Regions from separate parts of the Homo sapiens genome. Here region 2 is linked to region 1. Evidence: fine-mapped expression QTL. Tissue or cell type: fibroblasts. Region 1 holds a variant in brackets; the other region holds the start of a gene. All regions are shown on one strand. Distances are between the middles of the regions.

Region 1 (4,358 bases):
AAAATATCAAACAATAACAAGTGTTGAAGAAGATGTGGAGAAATTGGAACTCTCATACACTATTCATGGGAATGTAAAATGGTGCAGCTGCCTTGGAAAACAGGTAGTTCCTCAAATGATTAAACTTAGAGTTACTATATGATCCAGCAATGCCACCCCTAGGTATATGCGCAAGAAAAATAAAAACATATATCCACACACAAATTTGTACACTAGTGTTTATGGCAGCATTATTTATGATAGCCAAAAATTGGAAACAACCCAAATGTCCATCAACTGATGCATGAATAGACAAAATGTGGTGTATCTATACAATGGAATATTATTTGGCCATAGAAAGAAATGAGTACTGATATGTTCTATAACATGGACGAACCTCAAAAACATTAGGCCAAGTGAAAGAGGCCAGTTATGAAACACCACACATTGCATAATTACATTCATATGAAAATTCAGAATAGGCAAATTATAGATACAGCACATAGGTTAGTTGTTGCTTAGGCTGGGATATAGGGGACAGGAGAGCATAGAGCTAAAAATATGGAGGTTTTTTTTTGAGGTGATGAAAATGTTGTAAAATTAACTATGGTGATGATCGCACCTATCTGTGATTATACTAAAAACTGTTAAACTGTATAACTTAAATGGGGGAGTTGTAGGATACATAAATTATATCTCAATAAAGTTTTTTTTTTTTTTTTAAGTCAACAGGGCTGTGCGCAGTGGCTTACATCTGTAATCCCAGCACTTTGGGAAGCCGAGGCAGGAGAATCTCTTCAGCCCAGGAGTTTGAGACCAGCATGGGCAACATAATGAGACACTGTCTCTGCAAAACATTTAAAAATTAGCTGGGCATGGTGGCATGTGCCTGTAATCTCAGCTTCTTGGGAGGCTGAGGTGGGAGGATCTCTTGAGCTGTGATTACTGTGATTACAGTGAGCTGTGATTACTGTGATTACAGTGAGCTGTAATCACACCACTGCATTCCAACATGGATGGGAGCAAGACTCTGTCTCAAAAAAAAAAAAAAAAAAAAAGTTAACAAGGTGTGGCAGTTTGGTGCAATGGGAAATGAAGTAAAGGAATGGGTCCAAGATATTTCCAAGGCAACCTATTTGGGCCAGTGGGAGAAGGCAGCTTTAAACGTGTTGTCTCTTTAGTGACAGTGAAGGAGACACATGTTTAATGAAGTGATCAGAAAACAGTGATGTGAGACTGCTCTTCCCACAGAAGGCCAGGTGGGGTCCCTGCTTCTTGGGGACCTGGGCTTATTTTAGAATGACAGAACACATCAGGGACCAGATTTCAGAGGCTGCTACAACTCCACAGAAATTTAGAAGTAGAAGGAAAGTTTCCACTTTCCTCAGAGGGCTAAATGGCAGTTTATTTATAATATGATGTTTTTGTTGCTGCAGGACTTTCTTGGCTTCTGTCTGTTGAATGCAGGTCCCGGCTGGCTCACCTCAATATCTGCATTCCCACCGAGTTAACTCCCTGTGTTGCACATAAGTTCTGCTCAATAATTCTTGTAGTAATTTCAAATGTAGATTTTCACTTTTACTATTTTACCAAATGTTTGAAACACAAAGATAGTTGTACCATCAGCTCATGCCTACCCAGCCCCATCAGCATTGCCCTACAACTCTGCACAGACATTTAGCTTGCTTTTTTGTGACTTTGCACGATCTGTATAATTGTTCTTGTTAATTCTAAGACATTTATATTTGTGGAACAATATCACACATATTGGATGACTTCATCCTGTGTGTTTGCGGCATTTCTGGCCTTCTTCTATCTGGTTTTCCTTCTTTGTGACAAAATTCCAAGGGAAACCAATAATTAATGGTGCCTAAAGAGAAAAGGCGGGAAGCCCCACTTGGTGATCTGAAGATGCTTGTTAAATCAGGTCATTGACCAATCTCTACATATTGTGTAAATTTTGGAAACACACATCTATGTCATATTGGGTCCGACATAAGGAGTGCTATAATGATTTTTCCTACTATAGTTGTGCTCCTTAATCAAAAAAATCACCTCTCTCTCTATTGAGGAATCAAGTAAATCTGCACAGTAATGAATGTTTCAAGGTCTGAACCTGGCACTTGATAAACATTGTCTTATTTAATTCTCAAAGATAAGGAAACAGTCTCAGAAAAGCAAAAGAACTTGTCCAAGGTCACTTAGCCAGGATTTGAAACCAGATCTTCCTGTTTACAAAGACTTGACTAAATCTGAAAAGGCTACATACTCTCATTCCAATTTGATGACATCCTGGAAAGGGCAAAACCATGGAGACAGTAAAAAGATCAGTGGTTTCTAGGGGATGTGGGGAGGGACAGATGAATAGGTGGAGCACAGAAAAATTTTAGGGCAGTGAAACAACTCTGTATGATACTATATTGGTGGACACACAGCATTATACGTTTGTCCAAACCCATGGAACAGACCATACCAAGTGTGAACCCTGATATAAACTATGAACTTTGGATGATCGTGGTGTGTCAATGTTAGGTTCATAATGATAGAAGCTACAAATGGAGGTAGGGGGTATATGAGAAATCTCCATACCTTCCACTCAACTTTGCTATGAACTTAAAATTGTTCCAAAAAATGAAATCTATTTAAAAAAAAAAAAAAAGAC[T/C]AGGCTGGTAGCTGATCTGTTACAAAGGCTTCAACTGCTTAATACTCCCATTAGTGTTATATCCTACAATTATGAACCACTTATTTACAAGTGTTAAATGCATTTGAGTGATGGGCCATCACTTAATAATGCCCTTGAATGGTGGCAGTCTCCAATCCATGCTAGGAGATGGCTGTGCAACAGTTCTCACAGCTGGGGAGTGGCCGCAACAGAACCAAATATAGTAACTCCCTGCCACCCAAGGAGGAAGAATCCTAAAAGCAGGCCTGGTTTTCTGTCTCACTTTTCCAATACTTAAAAATTGACCATCTCCAAACTCAATATTGCCAAATAATTCACTCACTTCCTTCATTTTGAAAATCATGCTCATTTAAGAGGAAATATAATCCATATACTTCTGGTTCCATTATACTTAGATCATCAGCAATATGTTCTTTTGCAATAGGTGTCCAAATATCTTTTGCAATAGATGTCCAAATGTCTCTGGAGACTTTTTTTTTCCACGAGGGCAGGAAGCTGCATTTGGACAAGAGTAATCACCAAAGTTCACACTTGAAAATTCAAACCCATAAGGTTTAAATTGCAAACTTGCCCAATCCTTAAACCGAAAAGACTCCAAAAAGCAATAATAACAAGGAGCTGGCAAGTATTCATACATGACAGCTGGAAAAGGGGGTGGGGTGGAATGAGAGAAGAGGACAATGACTGATGTGAACACCATGGGGAAGCCAGGCTCTGCAGGGTCCTTTGTCGAATCCAGGAGGCATGGTGTCCTTGGAGTCCTGATGTCCTTGTTGTGGAGTCAGCAGGGGCAGAAGCAGCCAGAAGAATACACCAGGCTCCATGAGGGAATTCATGTTGGAAACAGAGCTAGGACTTAGATCCATATTTTATATAACACTGAATATCTGCAGCTGGGCCCTGAGGCTCTTATTTGTTCAGATGTCATATATAAAGGTCTCTACTTTTGCTAGCCTGTGACAGAATTTCAATCTGGAATATTGATAAAAGAGTATGAAAAGCTGATTTTTCATAGTCAGTGGATTAAACAGTAACTCTTTTGATGATACCTATATAATGTAGTAACTTACTGTGTTTATTTTTATCCTGATTTAGAAAAGATTGAGTATTTGCTCAGTTACAATAAACATCATCAAATGGAAATAAAATTTTATTAGCTTGAAAAAAACAAGAGTAAATAAATTGTTCTTAAAATCATTGACATGTAAATATATCCTATTGTTAATTGCAGATAATAAAGAGTAAAGACTAAGTATGTATGAAATCCGACCAAGTGGGCATTCTCCTGGAGAAAAGTTAAAATTAGATGAGTCCTAGTTAAAAGAATCATGTTAAAGCATTAGTTGTAGAAGCAATAATAAAAATATGCATGATGGGGTTCTGCTGTGACATCATGAGCCTCACAGAGACACAGGCAACATAGGCAAACATGAAATTATTGTGGCATAGACAAATTCCACATGGGGCGGTATGCCTCTGAGTCTTATATTACTCACATATATTGTTTTGTAAAGTGCTACTCCTGGCCTCTTTACCAAGGAAAGATGTAAGGTGAGGAAGAGGGAGTTGGGGTGCACAAAGAAGAGAAAGCTCAAGGAGGCTCTAGGAACCAAGGAAGGCAGGAAGAGAAAAGATATTTAATGCAGCTTGAATGGTGTTTATCCATTTTGTTGCTTCATCACTTTGAACCTGTGGT
Region 2 (4,179 bases), 110 kb after region 1:
CCCTCAGTGGCACTGTCACTCATACAATGGCCAAAAATGCCACCAGAGCTGCCACTCCTGCCAAAACTGCCACTTCCCACATTAACCGTCACTGCTACCTAGTAAGTGATGGTAAACAATACTTCTGTTCCCACTTTTGGACAAGGGAAAGACAGATTTCTGAGTTTCTAAATTAAATGCATTTTTCAATAGATAGTTAAATTATACACTATACGAGTAGTATACACCGATTACATGGATTAGCCAGGAAACCCACTATTTTTAATATTGCTTAAGTTTAGATATGGAAAAATAATTTTTTGAATTGTTTTACTATTGCAACATACCTTTTTTACACTGCAAATGGATGACACTGGCAAAATGGTTATGACAAAGACTCCTTCAATAAAGGCTGGTACTATATTTTAACAAACAGGTAAAGTTAATGGCATTTTTTCCCATTCGGGAGGATCAACTAGAATTTAATCTGGATTAAAGAATGATGTAGAATTTTTAAACAGACCATTAGTATTGAAGTTATACTAAATTAAAACCACACACGAGTAGCAGAAAATATTCTTTATAGCTAGCAAAAGCAAAACAACTGAAAAAAATGAAGAATAAGCTCAAGATTTCTCACTTCAACTAACACCTCCAGACTGCATTATCATTTTAGGCAAACTGACATTTTCACATTTACTTTGTAATGGCAAGATTGATTTCCATCTGGGACTTATCTGCATAAAAGTGTTAGCCTTGGCACAATTTCAAAATTGAATTGAAAGCTCATTTCTTGCTATAAGCAAAGTGCCACAATACCACACAACAGTTATACCTCACATTAATCCTACCACTGGGAGTCCAATTTTATGTGTTTCAGCTAGCGAATTCTGCCCTCAGGTAAGCACATAACTCTATAAAACCCTTCCTCGATCATCAACAAATCACTTATCTCTACTACCTTAATGCCTCCTGCACTTGTCCATACTAAACAGTATTTACACGTTAAAAGAGAAGTTCTACAAATGCTACTATTCTTCATAAATAGAAAAAAACTATAAATGAGGGCAAATTCCCATACGTGGAAAAATGCCAAACCAGAAGCTGAAATCATAACTTTTAGGTATAGAACCACAGCTCCAATCAGTCAACTACAAACGTCGCCGGTTACTTCGAGGGTAAATAATTTGCAGCCAGCTGGTAAAAAGCCTGATAAAAATATTAGGTCCTCACATATCTTCCTTTTCAATAAGGAGACACCTGAAAGTCACACTGGGCAGTCTGTCACGTATCGAAACATGCAGAAGAGAGACTGTACAGAACGTGCAGTTATCAAACGCAGGAAGCCAAAGTTCCTGTGCTATGAGAGGACCACAGTGAAAAACGGTAGCCCATCTGTCCAAAGAACAGAAAGAAGTCCACCTGGAAAGGATGGGAGTCGGCGGAGGGGGGCGAGAAGAACGAGTTCCACGCCGTCTTCCTCCTCCCGGGCTAACTGCAGCCGCGGGCGGCAGGAAGGCAGCCGCGCGGGGTGGGCTCTTGGGGACTGGGCGCAGGGCTCCGCGGCGCGGCTGGGCTGCGGCTGCCCGATCGGCGAGGGCCGGGCCCCGGGAAGTCTCCAGGGCCTCGCCCGCGCAGCCAGGAAAGCATGCAGCCCACCGACGGGCGGAGGAACCGCCCGGGCAAAGCCACGTCGGTGGCTGACCGCGCGGCAGGGAGGTGGGCACCCTGTCCACACCCACCAGGAGGCTGACAGCTGGCGAGCGCCAGGCGGCCGGGACGGGACAAGGGCCGCAGCGCGCCGGAGGGGGTCGCTCTGAGAAAGCCGCGCTGGGCGCTGCCCGTCGCCAACGACTCCCCCTCGCCCGGATCAGCGGCGGCTGGATACTCACGTAGGGCTGGTAGAACTTGGAGAGCCGCGGCTTCCCGTGGTTGTTGAAGATTAGGATCGCCTTGATCATGGCTGTGCCGGGCCGACCGGGTGGGCACTGGGGGCCAGGGCGGGGGCGGGCGCGCGAGCCTCGCCTCGTAATCTCGCCTGCGATCCTTCCCCACCCGCCCCCTCCCGCACGCGACCGCGCGCGCTCCCGAGCCGTCGGGCGGGGCCCAAGGGGCGGGGCCTGGGCGGGGCAGGCACTAAGGAAAGCGGAAACATTTCTAGGTCCGAGCCAGCGGCCTAACTGGAGTGTGCGCATTCGACCGAGCACAGACACGTTGCCCACCGCTCCTCTCCCGAGGTCTGTAGTCGCGGAGAAACACATGTTGCGTTACTAACGTTCAGAGGTCTGCGACAGCTTCGATTTGAATGACTAGCCGGGAACACCAAGTTTCACTGTGTAATTGCGTCCCCCTACTCCGGCGCCTCCTTTGCGACGCTCCCTGGAGAAAAGCACGCCCACTGCACGCGCTCAGTCGCTACTTCCGCTCTCGAGTGTCTCCAAGCAAGATGGCGGAGGAGCCGCAGTCTGTGTTGCAGCTTCCTACTTCAATTGCTGCTGGAGGGGAAGGACTTACGGATGTCTCCCCAGAAACAACCACCCCGGAGCCCCCGTCTTCCGCTGCAGTTTCCCCGGGAACAGAGGAACCTGCTGGCGACACCAAGAAAAAAAGTAACTGAATTTATTTCCGGGCAGAGAGGCGGGAGGTTCAGATTGCATCCGAGTAGGGGTGGCGGCCAGTAAAGAAGCAAAATTTAGAGGAGCGCCTGTCCTAGACCTGCATTTTGACCAGTCATCAGAAGAAAAGAAGTGTACTTTTTGATTTTTAAGGCCTTTAAGTTGAGTGTTAAAATACCATCTCTGTCTATCGGTGTAGGGCCTGATACTTGGCTGCCACACTTATTTTTATACTGTATTTTTTTGAGTTGGCCAGACTGCGAGCTCTTTGAAGGAGGGAGGGAGCTGAGTGGGGCGGGGGGAGGGGGGTCTCGGTAATTCCAGGTACTTAACACAGGAGCTAATTATTTGAGTAATGTTTTATGGTGGTAGGGGTGGTCATTGGCAAAGCCTGGATTAGAATTCATGCCTTCCAACTTAACTCGCTTTTGCTTTTTTCCCCCTCCCAGTTGGTTGTGAATTCACTCCTTAAACCAAAAACCAAATTCTTATGCAGAATGAAGACTGCTAAGGGAAAGCTAAAGGCATAGATGTTACCTTTTTAAGAAACACATTTTGGAACCTTTGTGAGTTATTTCATTGCTTGAGTCAGCTATCCTCAACCCTTTATTGCTTGAGAATGTTTCCCTTTGTAAAAGAGATTGCTAAAATTACGTGTTCTAAAGCACTCTGTTTAGAGTTAGAGTTGCCTATGGGAAAAGCAGCATATAAGCATCCTCGATTCAGAGAGGCTGATTTCGTCCTTAGACGTTTTCCCCGTTCTGTCTTAAGATGACAGTGGTCTCTGGCCGGGCGCGGTGGCTCACTCCTGTAATCCCAGCACTTTGGTAGGCTGAGGCGGGTGGATCACCTGAGGTCAAGAGTTCGAGACCAGCCTGGCCAACATGGTAAGACTCCATCTCTACTAAAAATATAAAAGTTAGATGGGTGTGGTGGCGCGCGCCTGTAATCCCAGCTACTCGGGAGGCTGAGGCAGGAGAATCGCTTGAACCCGCGAGGCGGAGGTGGCAGTGGGCGGAGGTCTCGCCATTGCACTCCAGCCTGGACAACAAGAGCGAAACTCCGCCTCAAAAAAAAAAAAAAAAAAGACATTGGTCTCATTGCTTTTTCTTCAACTTCTGCTACTGTGGAGGATAATTCTCTCCCAAGACTGCCCCCCTTCCCACTTTAAATCAGACTCCCATTTCCACCTGATGCACTATAAGTATTTCCATGGATAGCCACTGGAATCTTTCTTCAAAAGAATTCCGCAGGTTTTACAGTGTTTTGTTGCATTTTTTCTTCCAATTTACTATAGGCAAGAGCGGACGTTCGGAGATTCGTTTTAAGGTCTAACAGTCTTAGTCAAAACTTGTTACTTGACTCTGATGATAGCTGTGCAAAACAAAAGCTAAAAAAAATGGCTTACAATCTAAATATTGCCCGAGGGCATATTTTCTTGGTCTGGACAGTATTTTTTTGCAAATTGAACTGTCATTTAAGGATGAGATTTTTATTTTCTGGCTCTTGTTAGCATTTGAGTTTGCCTCTCCAATATAAAACTTAGTTTCTAACTATTCCTACCTTGTGCTTGTCATTATTTGTT

Direction of the effects. Positions count from the first base shown, and alleles are read on the strand shown. Sizes are in standard deviations (SD) of each study's normalised expression.
For the expression in fibroblasts of the gene that starts at base 2,043 in region 2, T is the high allele of the variant in region 1 and C is the other (small effect, 0.09 SD a copy in GTEx).

The links. PIP is the estimated chance that this variant, and not a neighbour inherited with it, causes the effect. A credible set is the group of variants that fine-mapping cannot tell apart.
Region 2: it holds the start of AP3S1, and the variant in region 1 is the best candidate, but not a certain one, in a credible set for the expression of AP3S1 in fibroblasts (GTEx, PIP 0.58).

What each region holds. Positions count from the first base shown.
Region 1 is chr5:115,947,201-115,951,558 of GRCh38, reverse strand. No RefSeq gene overlaps it. Among named protein-coding and RNA genes, the nearest start is that of LINCADL, 7.2 kb to the left of the region's middle. The variant T/C (reference allele first, on the strand shown) is at 2,642.
Region 2 is chr5:115,839,799-115,843,977 of GRCh38, reverse strand. AP3S1 (adaptor related protein complex 3 subunit sigma 1) reads right to left here and starts at 2,043. Exons shown (of 6, transcript NM_001284.4): 1 at 1,872-2,043. The coding sequence starts at 1,940. It overlaps ATG12 (autophagy related 12), which reads left to right and starts at 2,413. Exons shown (of 4, transcript NM_004707.4): 1 at 2,413-2,588. The coding sequence starts at 2,426. RefSeq lists enhancers at 1,197-1,406, 2,397-2,446, 2,457-2,756, 2,145-3,046, 3,050-3,550 and silencers at 1,497-1,686, 1,787-2,166.